2 separate regions of the Homo sapiens genome follow, and region 2 is linked to region 1. A link means that fine-mapping ties the variant in region 1 to the expression of a gene that starts in the linked region. Tissue or cell type: lung. Region 1 holds a variant in brackets; the other region holds the start of a gene. All regions are shown on one strand. Distances are between the middles of the regions.

Region 1 (8,106 bases):
GCTCCGGAGAGAGAAGAAGCCAAAAGAGGGTTAAGCTGGGGCCCTGGATGGAGAATCAGGCAGGAAGAGGCAGACCAAAAAAAAAGCTGGAGAAAGGCCCAGGAAAGCAGCGAGGTGAGCAGTGCCCTGCAGAGCTAAGAGGAGGACGGGGCATGCTCTCTGGCCACAGTCCCTGCTGGCCCTACCCGCTGCCTTCTAACCTCCTGACGGGTCTGTGCTCACAACACACTGGTGGTTAAATATTTTGAACGTCGCCCCTGGAGATGGGTATCTCAAGAAACATAACATCAACCAATTGTTCCCTTCTCTTCTTCAAACATAAGCAGGCTTCTAGGTGTGGGCTTACTGCTAAAGCAGATTCCTATTGGGGGGATTGGAGTTATCCTCATGGGCTTCACTTTAACTCAGCCCCCAGTACCTTAGGGAGTCAAAGAAGTTTATAGCTGCAAGGATGCTTAGAGATCATCAGTGCACACACTCTCCCATTAGGGGAACTGAGGCACAGAGCAAGGAAAGATTTGCCCAAGGAATTTCAGGACAGATCTAGAACAAAAACCAGCGTTCTTCTTCAGATTTACGAGAGGAGGATGACCATTTCTAATCGTTGTGTGCTCCCTGTTCCCTGCATTTGCAGAGCTAGAGGAATACATGGGTGGCTGGTATGGGCAGAACATCACCCAAAAGATATGCACCCTCAAACTGACTAAACTGAAGAGTCATTCCACCTCCAACCTTTTTTTTTTTTTTTTTGAGATGGACTCTCGCTCTGTTGCACCCAGGCTGGAATGCAGTGGCGCAATCTCGGCTCACTGCAACCTCTGCCTCCCAGGTTCAAGCGATTCTCCTGCCTCAGCCTCCTGAGTGGCTGGGATTACAGGTGCCTGACACCACGCCCGGCTAATTTTTTGTATTTTTAATAGAGACAGTGTTTCACCATATTGGCCAGGCTGATCTCGAACTCCCAAACTCAAGTGATCTGCCTGCCTTGGCCTCCCAAAGTGCTGGGATTACCGTTCCCAGCCCCACTTTCAATCTTTGTACCATTAAAATGCATATCTTCAGTCACTGTCACAAACTCCATATCCTTTTCTGAAAGCTGCCTCTGTGAGGGGACTGTTATCAGGGATATGAAGATCACTGTATGCCTGGCACATAGAGGGATACAGCTTGGGAGGGAATACTACTGTTTAAGGAATCTTTTTAATTTTTTTTACTTTTTTTTTTTGAGACAGAGTCTTTCTCTGTCACCAAGGCTGGAGTGCAGTGGTGTGATCTCGGCTCAATGCAACCTCCACCTCCCGGGTTCAAGCAATTCTTCTGCCTCAGCCTCCCGAGTAGCTGGGACTACAGGCGCATGCCACCACACCTGGCTAATTTTTGTATTTTTAGTAAAGACAGGGTTTCACCATATTGGCTAGGCTGGTCTTGAACTCCTGACCTCATGATCCACCCACCTCGGCCTTCCTAAGCCCTGGGATTACAGGCATGAACCACCACATCTGGCCTAACTAATGCATCATTTTTTAAAAGGTGTACTATGCATAACACCACAGTGCTGTTTCAGTAAGAGTAGTGGCTGTAAGATCAGGAGACCGGGGTGTGATCCTGCCTCTGGGAGGGCTGTAAGTGAGCAGGGCCCACCCAGCACAGAGCCCGGACAGACAGATAATGGGCTTGGCAGGTGGTGCTGGTGTACTTGCAGAGAGATTTAGGCCACAGATCAAAAGAGACACTGGGAGTTGGAGCTTTTTATGAGAGGACAGTAGGTAGAAAATCAAGGCCTGACTGACTTTGGGGTGGGGGGCATCAGGAACATAAGTGATGCTCCACACATCCCACTTTTCCTTAAGCAGCAGTTCTCAGATATTGTCCACCATGATAGGCAGGACAGGTGATGCTCCCAGGTGAGCCATGCTTCTGTGGGCATGTCCCAGGTTTGATGGGACTTCCTGTAGCTAGCTGTGTGTGCCCACGCCTTCTCTTCCACAGCAGGGAGCTTATGGTGATGCAAGAGAGTGAGACAATACCTCACTGCCCTGCAAACATCAATGTGTGACTACCCATAATGAATAATCCAAAGTCTTTGTGACATGCCTGCACTTCACAGTTGACCCTACATCAGGCTTAAGCCCTGACTTGGAGTAATAATGATACAACTACACAATCTTGGGCAAGTCCCCTAAATCTCATTGTGCCTCAGTTTCCATGGCTGTAAAATGTGAATAATGAGAGTTGCTCTCTCATAGAGTGGTTGAGAAAATTAAACTAGATAATGCAGAAAATGTGCTCAGCACAGTGCCTAACATAGTAAACGGTCAAAAATTATTACTTATGATCCCTTCTATTGTTATATAATCAGGTAGAATATATGTTAATAGGAGATTGGTTACCCAAATATGTATGTTTAACAGGGAATGTATTATCCAAATATAAATTCAAAAAACTAAAACACACAATTATAAAATGAATTAAGCAGTGAAAGCAAGTGCTCATGCTTCTTAAGGATCCCCACAGGGAAGGCCTACAGATTTTCATTACCATAAAGGGTTTTAATGGCAGTAAGATGCTGGGGCATGTTCTGGCCCCAGAAAGGCTAAGTATTGCGATAGAAGAAATTCAGGGGTTGTAACTGAGGGGAGAAGGGTTTGCAAACTCTCATCTCTTTTCGAATCTATCTGGTAGAGGCCACGGATTTAGTTAAAGCAGAGTTTCTCAACCTCAGCACAACTGACATTCTGGGCTGGACACTTCCTTGTTGTGGAGGCCACTCTACCCACTGGAGATTGTTTAGCAGCCTTTCTGCTCTCTATCTCCTAGATGCTAGTAGCACTGCCCCCAGTTGTGACAACCAAAAATGTCTCCAAACATTGCCACATTTCTTTTATTTTCTTCCTTTTTTTTTTTTTTTTTTGAGATGGAGTCTCACTTTGTTGCCCAGGCTGGAGTGCAGTGGCGTGATCTCGGCTCACTGCAACTTCTGCCTCCCGGGTTCAAGCAATTCTGTCTCAGCCTCCCCAGTAGCTGGGACTACAGATGCCCACCACCATGCCCGGCTAATTTTTGTATTTCTAGTAGAGGCGGGGTTTCACCATGTTGGTCAGGCTGGTCTTGAACTCCTGACCTCAGGTGATCCACCAGCCTCGGCCTCCCAAAGTGCTGGAATTATAGGCATTAGCCTCCATGCCCAGCCACCAAATTTCCTTTGAGGGGCAAAATTGCCCCTGATTGAGAGCCACTGCATTAAACAAAAAGCCATATAATTATAACATGTTATATAATACAGATTTTTTAATGTATTTCAAAAATATTATTTACATAACATAAAAATATGGCTTCATTTATTCAAGTCTTTATTGAAAGCAGTTGATTTGTAAAAACAAAAATGTCAAAGGCCTTTTCTAATAACTCTAAGCTTATCACATTTTTAAAGTAAATATTGAGAATATCAGCCTCATTAGAGGTTAAAGTTTGTTTTCTTTCTATTAAATGGTATGTTTAACAAAATATCACA[T/C]GATTGTCAGTAAAACCAAAGATAGATGCATATTTTTAAACTCCTGATTGTTTACCACTTTAACTCGTTTTCAAAAACAGCATGTGATCTCCCATTATATATAAAAACTCAAAGTGAATCAAAGACCTAGATATAAGAACTACACTATAAAACATTTGGAAGAAAACATAGGCATAAATCCTTCTGATTCTGGATTAGGCAATGGTTTCTTAGATAAGATATCAAAGCAATAAGCAACAAAATAAAAAAGTAGATTACTTGGACTTCATTAAAATTAAAAACATTTGTGCTGCGAAGGACACTAGTGAGAAGACAAACCACAGATTGGGAGGAAATATTTGTAAATCATGTATCTCATAAGAGTTTCATATCTAGAATACATAAAAATCTCTTACAACTCAATAATATATGACAAATAACCCAATTTAAAAATGGGCCAGGCGTGGTGACTCACACCTGTAATCCCAGCACTTTGGGAGGCCAAGGTGGGTGGGTCACCTGAGGTCAGGAGTTTGAGACCAGCCTGGCCAACATGGTGAAACCCTGTCTCCACTAAAAATACAAAAATTAGCCGGGCGTGGTGGTGCATGCCTGTAATCCCAGCTACTCAGGAGGCTGAGACATGAAATTTGTTTGAACTCAGGAGGCAGAGGTTGCAGTGAGCTGAGATCACGCCGCTAGACTCCAGCCTGATCAACAGAGTGAGACTGTCTCAAAAAAAAAAATAAAAAATAAAAAATAAAAAATAAAAATGGTCAAGTGGCTGGGCACAGTGGCCCATGCCTGTAATCTCAGCACTTTTGGGAGGCTGAAGCAGGCAGATCACCTGAGGTCAGGAGTTCCAGACCAGCCTGGCCAACATGGCGAAACCCCGTCTCTACTAAAAATACAAAAATTAGCCGGGCATGGTGGCGCACATCTGCAGTCCCAGCTACACGTGAGGCTAAGGTGGGAGGATCCTTTGAACTTAGGAGGCAGAGATTGCAGTGAGCTGAGATTGTGCCAATGCACTCCAGCCTGGGTGACAGAGCTCCATCTCAAAAAAATAAAAATAAAAATAAATAAATTTTTTAAAATGGGCAAGTGATCTGGATAGACATTTTTCCAAAGATTATATAAAAATGGCCAAAAAGCTCATGAAAAAATGCTCAATACTATTATCCATTAGGGAAATGCAAATCAAATCCAGAATGAGATACCATTTCACAGCCAGCAGGATGGCAATAATAAAAAAACACAGATAATAACAAGTACTGATGAGAATATAGAGCAACTAGAACTCTCATACACTGCTGGTAGGAATGTAAAATGATACAACCCTTTTGGAAAATAGTTGTGCAATTTCTCAAAAAGTTAAACATAAAGTTACCATATGATGCAGCAGATGTATGTCCACCCAAATGCTTGTACACGAACATTTATAACAGCATTATTCATAATAACAAAAGTACGAACAAGTCTAATGTTCACCAGCTAATGAATGGATAAGACAAATGTGGTATACCCATACAATTGAATATTATCAGCTGTGAAAAAAAACGTAGTACTACAACGTGAATGACCCTTGAAAACATCATACTAAGTGTAAGAAGCCAGATACAAAAGGCCATGTATTATACAATTCCATACAATATATGAAACGTACAGAACAGTCAAATCTGTAGAGACAGAAAGTAGATTAGTGGTTGCCTAGGGCTGGTGTTATGGACTGGAATGTGTGCCTCCAACTCATACGTTGAAGCCCTCACCCCCAGAGTGACTATAATTGGAGACAGGGCCTGTAAGGAGATCATTAAAGTCAAATGAGGTCATAAGGGTGGAACCCTGATCTGATAGGATTGGTGTCCCTATAAGAAGAGATACCAGAGAGCTGCTGCAACACCTCCTTCCCCAACCAGTCACCGTGAGAACACACAGAGAGAAGCTGTTGTCTGTAAGCCAGCAAGAAAGTCTTTACCAGAAACTAACCCCTCAAGACCCTGATCTGGGACTTCTAAGCCTCCGGAATTGTGCAAAAATAAGTCTCTGTTGTTTAAGCCACCTAGTCTGTGGTATTTTGTTAGAGCAGCCTAAACAGGTTAATACAGCTGGGAAGGTTGAAGGGAGATGGAGAGTGACAGCTAATGGGCATGAGGTTTCTTTTTGAGGTGATGAAAATGTTCTAAAATTGATCATGATGGTTATACGACTCTGTGAATATGCTAAAAGAACAAACCAATGAATGGCGCATTTTTGTTTTCTTTTTCTTTTTTTCTTTTCTTTTTTTTTTTTTTTTTTTGAGACAGAGTCTCACTCTGTTGCCCAGGCTGGAGTGCAGTGGCATGATCTCGGTTCACTGCAAGCTCCGCTCCCCACCTCCAGGTTCACGCCATTCTCCTGCCTCAGCCTCCTGAGTAGCTGGGACTACAGGCGCCTGCCACCATGCTCGGCTAATTTTTTGTATTTTTAGTAAAGACGGGGTTTCACCATGTTAGCCAGGATGGTCTCGATCTCCTGACCTCGTGATCCGCCCGCCTCGGCCTCCCAAAGTGCTGGGATTACAGGCGTGAGCCACCTCACCCGGGCTGAATGGTGCACTTTAAGTGGATGATTGTATGCTATGTGAATGGTATCTCAAAAAAGCTGTTTTTTTTAAATGGCATATGTTCATCTATGGGAGAATGATAAAAGTGGCTAATGCAGTAACTGCACCAAATGGTCATGGAATGCTGAGGCAAGAGGGCTCTTCATGTGCCAGTGGTTCACGGTGATGCTGAGACTGGCCAGGCTAGAGCTGGCCAAATTTCAAATGGTGCCTGTTTTACAATGTGATTTACCTTATTATGTAAATTACTTGTGGAGAAGTTAAATGAACCTGAAAATATCGCCATAGAGCTCTCATGATTATTAGAACCTAATACTGACTCTCACACCCGGGCTACTCAATAGGTGAGGAAAAGAGTTCCCACAACCATTCTGTTGTTGGCTCTGGCCAGGAGAGTATTTGGTGATCATGTATGCATAGAAAAGCACCTCTCATTCTCTTATTTCTTATTCATTCAATAAACATCTGCTAAATGAATGCTATGTGTCCAGGTAGTGTGTTAACATGTAGGGCTATGATCCCACAAAGAGAAATTAAAAAAATTGGAGTAACCAGGGAGATGAGAGGTGAATGGAGAAAGTAGAGTAAAATTAGAGAAAAGTTTTTCTTTGTTGATCTGTTTTGTTTGTTTGTTTGTTTTGTTTTGTTTTGTTTTGTTTTTGAGATGGAGTCTGGCTGTGCTGGCCAGGCTGGAGTGCAGTGGTGCTATCTCAGCTCACTGCAACCTCCACCTCCCAGGTTCAAGTGATTCTCCTGCCTCAGCCTCCTGAGTAGCTGGGATTACAGGTGCATGCCACCATGCCCGGCTAATTTTTTTTTTTTTTTGTATTTTTAGTAGAGATGGGGTTTCACTGTGTTGGCCAGGCTGGTGTCAAACTCCTGATCTCGTGATCCACCCACCTTGGCCTCCCAAAGTGCTGGGATTACAGGCATGAGCCACCGCACCTGGCCTAGAGAAAAATCTTAATTACACATAGTTATTCACTAAACACATGGTAATCAAGATCCTAAATGGAGGGGAAGGTCTACTTTACTGAATAGCAAAGAAGAATCTATAACAAGCCTATACATTACATTTAAAGGTACACTTTCATGGTGCCTGTGGGAAATTGAACTCATTTAACCTATAAGGAATTTAAATCTCAATCTTAAAATGTGCACAGGATAAATTTGCTGGGCAAGTGCTTTTTTTTTTTGTAGTTAGTTCAAAGGGAAGCATCAATCTGACTCCACCAAAGCAGCCGTCAATTCATGAGAGGCACTGAAAGTCACATGCACTTGTCACACAAACATCCTTACCCCAAAGACAGGTTGTGAGATTTGTATATAGGAATCTGAGGATATCTTTATGTCCTTATTTAACAATTGGAAATTTGCTCATCTGAGGAGGTCAGTGACTAATACCTGGATGATCTTTTTATCATTACCTGATAGGAAATTTAGCGCAGGTTTTAAGGAGGAGGAAATTCTAGATTATCTCTGATCTTAGGCTAAAATTATATAATAGCTGTGAGTTACGTGGGAGTGTTGGGGACTGGGGCATACTAGAGCGTTCATGCCTCCACACTACCCAGCTCCAGCGGACTGTTGACATGTAGGAATGTGGATGTTGTTATTAGATCTGCTCAGTTTTGTGTGAAACCTCTTGATTTTAAAATATTGACACGTAGTCCAAATATTTTAATAACAATGTTCAGGCCAAATAAAACATATCTGCAAGGCAGACTCAGCCCATAAACTGCCATTATGCCACATCTGATCTAAGGTTCCTAGCAAACTAAGATTCCATGTAAGAAAGCCAAAATATTCATTCATTTATTTCTCAAATATTTACTGAGTATCCTGACCATATCAGGTGTTGGGCTAGAGAAAGCAAGAGGTATACACATAGGTTTTAAATTTAGAATTTTTTAAATTTTGAAAATACAAAGTTTAATTTGTTCTTGAAAATGACTATAGAGGTGGAAATTAGGCAACTTTTCCTGTGTGCAGTTGCCAACTCCTGATTTTT
Region 2 (8,106 bases), 41 kb after region 1:
GTGTTCTGGCTTTAAGGGAAAAGTAAACTGGCCTCTTTAGAAATGTTGGCAGCCTGGCTGGTCCATTAGTAAGACTGAAAAGTCAAAACATTGACTGGAAAAGGCCATTACGACCGGGCTCAGCAGGAGTCATCGATAGATGATGTCATTTCAGAAATAAATAAGCCAAGGTTATGAGGCCCCAGAGCAGGGTCAAAACACTCTTCACAGCCCATCACCATCCTCCATCGCAGATACTGGTCTGCCAGAGACATAGGGGTCTGAGCCAGGATCTGCTTCGTTTTACCTTTTTTTGCTCATTCCAGGGGATGAAGGCCACCTGCAGAGTCTGTGACATTCTGCAAGTCACTAAGGAAGGTCCCCAATCCTCATTATGGGCACACCTTTTAGATTCCCCTTTAACTCTCTCCCCTCTCCTGGGTTCTTCTCACTACTTGCCATACTCTTTATCCTAGAATGCCTGCCTCCCTTCTGTTCCTTGTCCTCAGTTCCTGCTACCTTCCCTCTCCCTTCCTTTCTCATCCAAGCTTTTAGAAAGAGTTGCTGGCTCTGTTGAGAGCCTTCTTCAGCCTACAGCCTGAAGAAGTGGAGAACTTCTTCAGCTCCTGTTAGCTCCTGCCTTTCCCCCTCACCACAACGAATACTATCATTGCAATATCAGGCTCTGGGCTGAGGGCTTGCCCTGAATCATCTCACTTAATTCTCACAAGCAGCCCCTATGAAATGGGGCTATTGTTGTCTCCATTGTATGAGGAGAAAACGAGGCTCAGACAGGCTGGGTCACTGGCAGATCTCATTTTTTGAGCCTGCTGCAATACCCTGGTCTAAGTCACTCATGATCCCTGCCAATCCTGATGGTCTTTTCCCAGTCCTCATCCCCCTACTCCTGTCTCTCCACAGCAAGTGACACTGCCCACCTCTGTCCTCCCTTGGCACCTGGGAAAGCCACTGTCTCTCACTCCTTCCCCAGCTCCTCCTTACAGGATGGGTCATGCTAGAAAGGCTTCCAAGGAAGACTCTAAGCCCTCTCCACTCCAGGTCCACTAGAGACCACCTTGTCTGCCCCCTCATTGCTCAAGGTTCCTCTGAGTGGGTGGCAGAGTTGGGGCTGGAGCCAGATATCCTAACCTCCAGGCCAGTCCACCTCCCATTGCTCAGAGCTGCCACACCTACTTTGTGTTTTCTGTTTTTGCTGAGCTGCAAGAAAACGCCCTACCCTGAAGGAGGGAGAAGGTGTGAGACCCTGATAAGGTGGGGCGGAGGCTATTTTTAGAGGACACTGGCTTTCATCTTAGGCTGGGAGAAACTCAAGGGTCAATGACTCTCTAAAACACGGGTTTGTAAGACTAGCTCATTAAAGATAATACACCAAAGTGACAGTATTCTTGTTTTCACTCTGCCTGTTGGTTGTGTGGCTCTAACTGATGGAAACTTTATTATCTGACTCCATTTCCCGTTAATTCTTTTTTCTGTAAGTCTTTGAGATGGCTTTAGAAAAAAACACATAACAGAAAGTAAAGTAGAAGCAAAAAGGAAACTTCAGGATGAGGGCGCTATTGTCCAGACAAGGTAAAGTCCAGAACAGCAGCAGATTCAAGAAGAGGGGGCATTGATCGGGTGCTCCCAGAGCTCCCGGACCTGCCTGAGCAGTGGGAAGGGTGCGGAAAGAGATGGGAAAGGCTGGGAGACTGCAGAACTTCTGGCGTGACCGGCCCTGTGTGACCTTGAGCAGGGGGCTCTGCGGCCCTGCACAGAGGACAAAATGGCAGTCACCTCTGGAAGAAAGATGGGGTGGGGGCCCTAGGGGTTCTCACGCTGAGGGCCCAGCACCTGGGTTCAGGGTCTGGTTCTGCGATTCAGACACGGAGGAGCTTGGGCCAGGTCGTCTCCGAGAGTCTGAGGGCATAGGGCGAGGGCTGGAGACAGGGTCTGTAATAGTAGCGGTGGGTGAAGGGTGTAGGAGGGGGCGGCGCTGCGCAGGTTGGAGGACGCATCATAGGCCCGATATAGACCGGGAAACTGTGGCCAGGGAGCGGCTGTACTGGAACCACTGCCCCTGCCCAGCTCATCGCATCTGAAGCTGCGTGGCTCACAGGCTGCTTTGCCGGCTACGGAGCAGAGAGATGCCCATAGGCACCCCAAAAGTGCACTTCCTAGGGTTGTACGGCTTAGGATATCCGACGGCCTTAGTGAGTCCCAGGATACGATCGAGTCTGGGGCAGTCAGTCTCCGATTTCTGCAGCGTCTCCGCATGTGCGCGGCTGGGACCCCAGCGTCCCAGGCCCGGAGAGGGTGAACAGGTGTGGGGAGCGCAGGCGGCCAAGAGCGCGCCCTGCAGCTCTCAGGGCTTGGGCTCCCAGCTCCATCGCGGCTACCAAACCTCGCCCCTACAAATGGGAGACTGAGATCCAGAAACAAGAGGGGGATTGCCAAGGCCATGCCGAGAGCCGGCGACAACCTGGGGCTCCCGCCTCCAAGCTCTTTCCAGCTCCACTTGGCCGCGTAGCGCGTGTCGTGGTGCTTTAAACCTTGTCTCTCCCAGTTTGGGAAACTTCACCTGCCCCAAACACTCTCAGCGCGAACCTGGGATCCACGTCCAGTCGAGCCTTTACTCCCCCACTCCCACCCCCAGACTCTTGCAGGCGGAGAAGAGGCCGCGCCCCCGAGCCCAGCTCCGGCTGGCACCTGTACCCAGCTGAGCACCCCGCGGGCTCAGAGCCCCGCCGCGCTGGAGTCCTGCGGGTGGCGGGGGCGCCCCTCCGCCAGGACCCCAGCCCGGGGCGCCGTCTCCTCCAGAACCCCGGGTCCTTCTCGCGTTCACAGACGCGGTGCGGAGGTCCAGAGCGGAGGGCGCCCTGGCCAGGGCTGCGCGCGCGGGGAGGCGGGGACGGGAGCGCTGGGCTCGGAACCCCGAGACCCGGGCTCCCTAGCCCCAGAGGCAACCCGAGGCGGCAGCTATTTATAGAGGGAGCCACGCTCAGTCCCTCTTGGCGGCGGCGGCGACAGCTGAATATTTTGCCCAGATATGGCTGAGGCCCCGGAGCGGGGGCAGGGAGCCCCGCGAGCGCGAGGGGGACCCCAGGCGGGGTGGGGGCTTACCCGGACGCAGAGCTGTGGGGCCGGCGCGGACGCGGGCTGCGGAACAGGCGCGGGCGGCGGGCAGATGGACGCGGGCGGAGGCCGCGGTGCTCCGGCGGGCAGCGGGCGGGCGAGCGCAGCGCGGGGCTGGACGAGCTCCCGGGCGGCCGCGGGCGGGCGGGAGCTGTGGGCTCGGGGGTGGGAGCCAGGGGCGGGCCCGGCTCGGCTGTCACCGCGCCCCGCCCCGCCCGCCGCCGGCTCCCTCCTTCCCCCCCCCTCCACTCGGGGGCGCCCGGGCGCAGCGCACTTCCCCGTCGGGACGCGGCCCTGGGCCGGGAGCGCAGGGGAGTCGGGCTGCAGCCGAGCGAGCGCGGGCCCCTGCCTGGGTCTCCTCCGCTTCCCCGCTGGTACCAGGAAGAGTTTGAGCGACGGTAGAGTTATGTGGGAAAAGGTGGGCAGATTTGCATTCCTGTGGGGTTTAGAATTTAAGATTTTGAGAATCTGAAGTCCCCAGAAGTGATGGACCAAAGCCAGCTAAGCAGCTGCTGCACCTTCACCTCTGATTGAAGCGCCGCTCCGTCCGTTTCCCAGCAGCGCGGCCAGGTGGGCTCTGAGCCGCAAGCTTTAACCGCGATCGTTTTGTCTACACGTAGTTCCAACACGCAATCGAATACATTCTCTCTACACTGAGAGCGAGTGGAGTGTCTAAAATACTGATTTTAAATGACCACAACAAAAAGACCCAAGTTCTTAAAAGGCTTTTTTTTTTTTTTTTTTTTTTCAGAACAAACCACTTTAGGTGGTTTATTCCAAATACAATTTTAAGTGTTTTAATAAACAAATGTCTCATGCAAAGGAATTTATATAGAAATAGGAAAACGTCTTATTTTGGATTATTATGGGAAAGCTTTTGGTAGGGTAGACCTTAATAAAATCAGCTCTTAATCCTGATGTATAGATTATTAATGAGAAACACTCATTAACCAAATTTTGTTTCTCAAGAAAATGAATTTCTCTAAAGTCCTCACAATGAGAACGCTCTTTTCAAGGGGTATATGCCATACATTTAAAAATAAGCAGTGATCTAATATTTCAGATTATTTTAAAACATTTTTGTTGTGAATCGAACATATAAGAACATACAACATAAGTTATGTTGTATGTGTAAACAAAATAAATGTGCAGCTTCATGACTTTTTACAACGTGAACACCTGTGCAACCAGTCACTCAGAGAACATTGCCTACAGCCCAGAAGCCAACCTGTCCCTCCTGGGTCCCAACTCCCTTCTAAAGATGATCACTTTCTTGACCCTTACGGTGATCATGTCCTTGTTTTTTTTCTTCCCTCTGTAGTATGTCTTCATTTGTTCAAATCTGTTGTTAATCTGTGGTTTTATGCAGCTGTAGTTTTTCACTGTATGAATATGCCACAGTTTAAAAAAAAATCCATTTGACTATTAATGGGCATTTAGGTTGTTTCCAGGTTTTAGCTATTACAAATAGTGCTGCTGCGAACATTCCTTGCCAGAATCCTCCTGTCCACGCGCACAGCCTGCTGTTGGAAGTGCTGGGTGATAGAGAAAGCCTAACCTCAACTTCGGCAGAGATAAGCCTGAACTCTTCCAAAGTTATAGTACCATTGTACAGTGCAGTTTCCCATCTTCAACAACACTTGAAGTTACAAAAATTGAAACACTTTAGAAATTCTGATATGTGAGTAATGGTATCTCATTGAGGTTCAAACTTGCATTTCCCTATATCCTAATGTGTTGAGTATCACTTCATATTTATTGGCCAGTTGGATTTGTTTTGTGAATTGTTCAGATTTATTGTCCATTTTTCTTCTGGATAGTCCTGTGTATTGAATAGATTCAATGGTGTGTGTATCCTCAGTTATATTCCACTCTTTTGCCTTTTCACCTTATTAACGTATTTTGATAAACAGGTGTTCTTAAATACAGTCTGGCAATCTTTTCCCTTATTGGCAGCACTCTGTGTCCTGTTTAAGAACTCTTTCCTGTTCCTGGGTTATAAAGTTATCTTCCTATGTTATCTTCCCACCTTAGCCTTTCATGTTTAGGTTTTTTGTTTGTTTGTTTTTGTTTTTGTTTTTGAGATAGAGTCTTGCGCTTTGTTGGCCAGGCTGGAGTAAAGTGGTGTGATCACGGCTCATTGCAGCCTCAACCTCCTGGGCTCAAGCCAACCCCTTAACCCCCACATCAGCCCCTCAAAGTGCTGGGATTACAGGCATGAGCCACCATGCCCAGCTATTTAAAAAAATGTTTTTTGTAGAGATAGGGGACTTGCTATATTGCCCAGGCTGGTCTGAAACTCCTATGCTCAAGCAATCCTCCCGCCTCAGCCTCCCAAAGTGCTGGTATTACAGGCGCGAGCCACTGTGCCCAGCCTCATGTTTAGTTTTTTGTTTTTTTTTTTTGTTTGTTTGTTTTTTTTTTTTGAGACAGGGTCTCTGTCATCCAGGCTGGAGTGCAGTGGCGCGATCTCGGCTCACTACAACCTCTGCCTCCCAGGCTCAGGTGATCCTCCCACCTCAGCCTCCTGAATAGCTAGAACTACAGTTGTGCACCACCACATCCAGCTAATTTTTTGGTAAAGACAGGGTTTTGCCACGTTGCCCAGGCTGGTCTCAAACTCCTGGCCTTAAGTGATCCGCCCACCTCAAAGTGCTGGGATTACAGGCATGAGCCACCATGCCCGGCCAATGTTTAGGTTTTCAATCCATCTGGAATTGACTTTTGAATATGGTATGAGGAAGGGTTCATTCACATTTCATTTGTTTGTGTCACACTGACTTAGCACTAATTTTGTGGTTACATCAAGAAACAATCTATTGCTTTATTTTAAAAAGTAATGGACTCCTCCCCCTCCCCCTCCCCCTCTCCCTCTCCCCACAGTCTCCCTCTCCCTCTCCCTCTCTCTCCACGGTCTCCCTCTGATGCCCAGCGGAGGCTGGACTGTAGTGCCGCCATCTCGGCTCACTGCAACCTCCCTGCCTGATTCTCCTGCTTCAGCCTGCCGAGTGCCTGGGATTGCAGGCGCACGCCGCCACGCCTGACTGGTTTTCGTATTTTTTTGGTGGAGATGGGGTTTCGCCATGTTGGCCGGGCTGGTCTCCAGCTCCTAACCACGAGTGATCTGCTAGCCTCGGCCTCCCGAGGTGCCGGGATTGCAGACGGAGTCTCGCTCACTCAGTGCTCAATGTTGCCCAGGCTGGAGTGCAGTGGCGTGATCTCGGCTCGCTATAACCTCCACCTCCCAGCCGCCTGCCTTGGCCTCCCAAAGTGCCGAGATTGCAGCCTCTGCCCGGCCGCCACCCCGTCTGGGAAGTGAGGAGCATCTCTGCCTGGCCACCCATCGTCTAGGATGTGAGGAGCCCCTCTGCCCAGCAGCCCAGTCTGGGAAGTGAGGAGCGCCTCTTCCCGGCCGCCATCCCGTCTAGGAAGTGAGGAGCGTCTCTGCCCGGCCGCCCATCGTCTGAGATGTGGGGAGCGCCTCTGCCCCACTGCCCCGTCTGGGATGTGAGAAGCGCCTCTGCCCCGCCGCGACCCCGTCTGGAAACTGAGGAGTGTCTCTGCCCGACCACCACCCCGTCTGGGAGGTGAGGAGCGTCTCTGCCCAGCCGCCCCGTCTGAGAAGTGAGGAGCCCCTCCGCCTGGCAGCCGCCCCATCTGGGAAGTGAGGAGCGTCTCCGCCCAGCAGACGCCCCCTCCAGGAGGTGGGGGGCAGCCCCCGCCCGGCCAGCCGCCCCGTCCGGGAGGGAGGTGGGGGGGCGCCTCTGCCCAGCCGCCCTGTCTGGGAGGTGGGGGGGCCCCTCTGCCCGGCCGCCACCCCATCTGGGAAGTGTACCCAGCAGCTCATTGAGAACGGGCCATGATGACGATGGCGGTTTTGTCGAGTGGAAGCGGGGGAAGTGTGGGGAAAGGAAAGAGAAATCAGATTGTTGCTGTGTCTGTGTAGAAAGAAGTAGACATGGGAGACTCCATTTTGTTCTGTACTAAGAAAAATTCTTCTGCCTTGCAAAAAATAAATAAATAAATAAATAAATAAATAAATAAATAAAAGTAATGGAAACATTTCTAAAGTCAGTGAAATAGAAACCTTTTCCTAACCTGTAGACAATTTGAGGATTTTTCCATTTTTTTATTAGAGAATGAAACAATTATTAAAAACATACCAGTTTATTTCACTTAAACATTTCTGTGTTGGGATATTTTTATTTCATCATAAGTGATAAATCACTGGCATTCAGCACTCCTGAATTTTGAATCACTTGTTGTAAATACTGAGTTTTAAAAAGCTAGAGATAATTTTGACATGTTTAAAATGAAAAACTTCAAATATTTGGTCTCTACCTTCCTCTTTCTGTTCTCATTTGTTTCTGGATTTTTCTCAAATAAAAACAAACAAATGACATTGAGAATTTTTATTTCCAGCCTGGTTTTTGCCCCTGAAGTTTATTCCACATTTCCAAGATTCTGCATATCTTCACATGGAAGTCTATTAGCTCAAATTCAGTGTGTTCAAAATCAAATTTTTAAGCTTCCCACTCCCCCACTCCATCTGAGTAAGGTCCTAGGCTCTCATACCTTAAGACTTGGCTTCACTCTTCCCAATCTGTATCTAAGCTGTCTAATAATTGTAATTAAAAACTTTACAAGGTCATCAACACTTTTTCTTCAACACCATTGCTCCACTCTTAGTCCAGGGCCTCCCCACCTCATCTTTGGACCACTGCTAAAGCCTATAACCTGTCTGCCAATCTATCTGCCCATCAATTAGCAAGCACAAAAGGAGTGCCTGATGTGTGTAAGATGCCATTCTGACGGCTGTGGATGCTCAGACGGTGGTGTGCTGGAGAGCCTGTCATATGCGGTCTCAAGAGCTGCTTAGGTGAGTCTCTTCCCAACTCCACATTCAGTCTTGTCATATTATTAGCTGAAAATCAACAATGGTGGGACCATTTACAATATGAGAATTTTCAGACACTACAAATCAAGGCTCAGCTC

The links. PIP is the estimated chance that this variant, and not a neighbour inherited with it, causes the effect.
Region 2: TMOD1 starts here. The variant in region 1 is fine-mapped to the expression of TMOD1 in lung (TOPMed, PIP 0.95).

Annotation. Positions count from the first base shown.
Region 1 is chr9:97,537,655-97,545,760 of GRCh38, reverse strand. The region is part of intron 2 of TMOD1 (tropomodulin 1); the gene reads right to left. Among named protein-coding and RNA genes, the nearest start is that of TMOD1-AS1, 25 kb to the right of the region's middle. The variant T/C (reference allele first, on the strand shown) is at 3,512.
Region 2 is chr9:97,496,797-97,504,902 of GRCh38, reverse strand. TMOD1 (tropomodulin 1) reads right to left here and starts at 3,237. Exons shown (of 10, transcript NM_003275.4): 1 at 3,100-3,237. RefSeq lists a cis regulatory region at 1,234-1,251, an enhancer at 1,170-1,314 and a silencer at 2,701-3,420.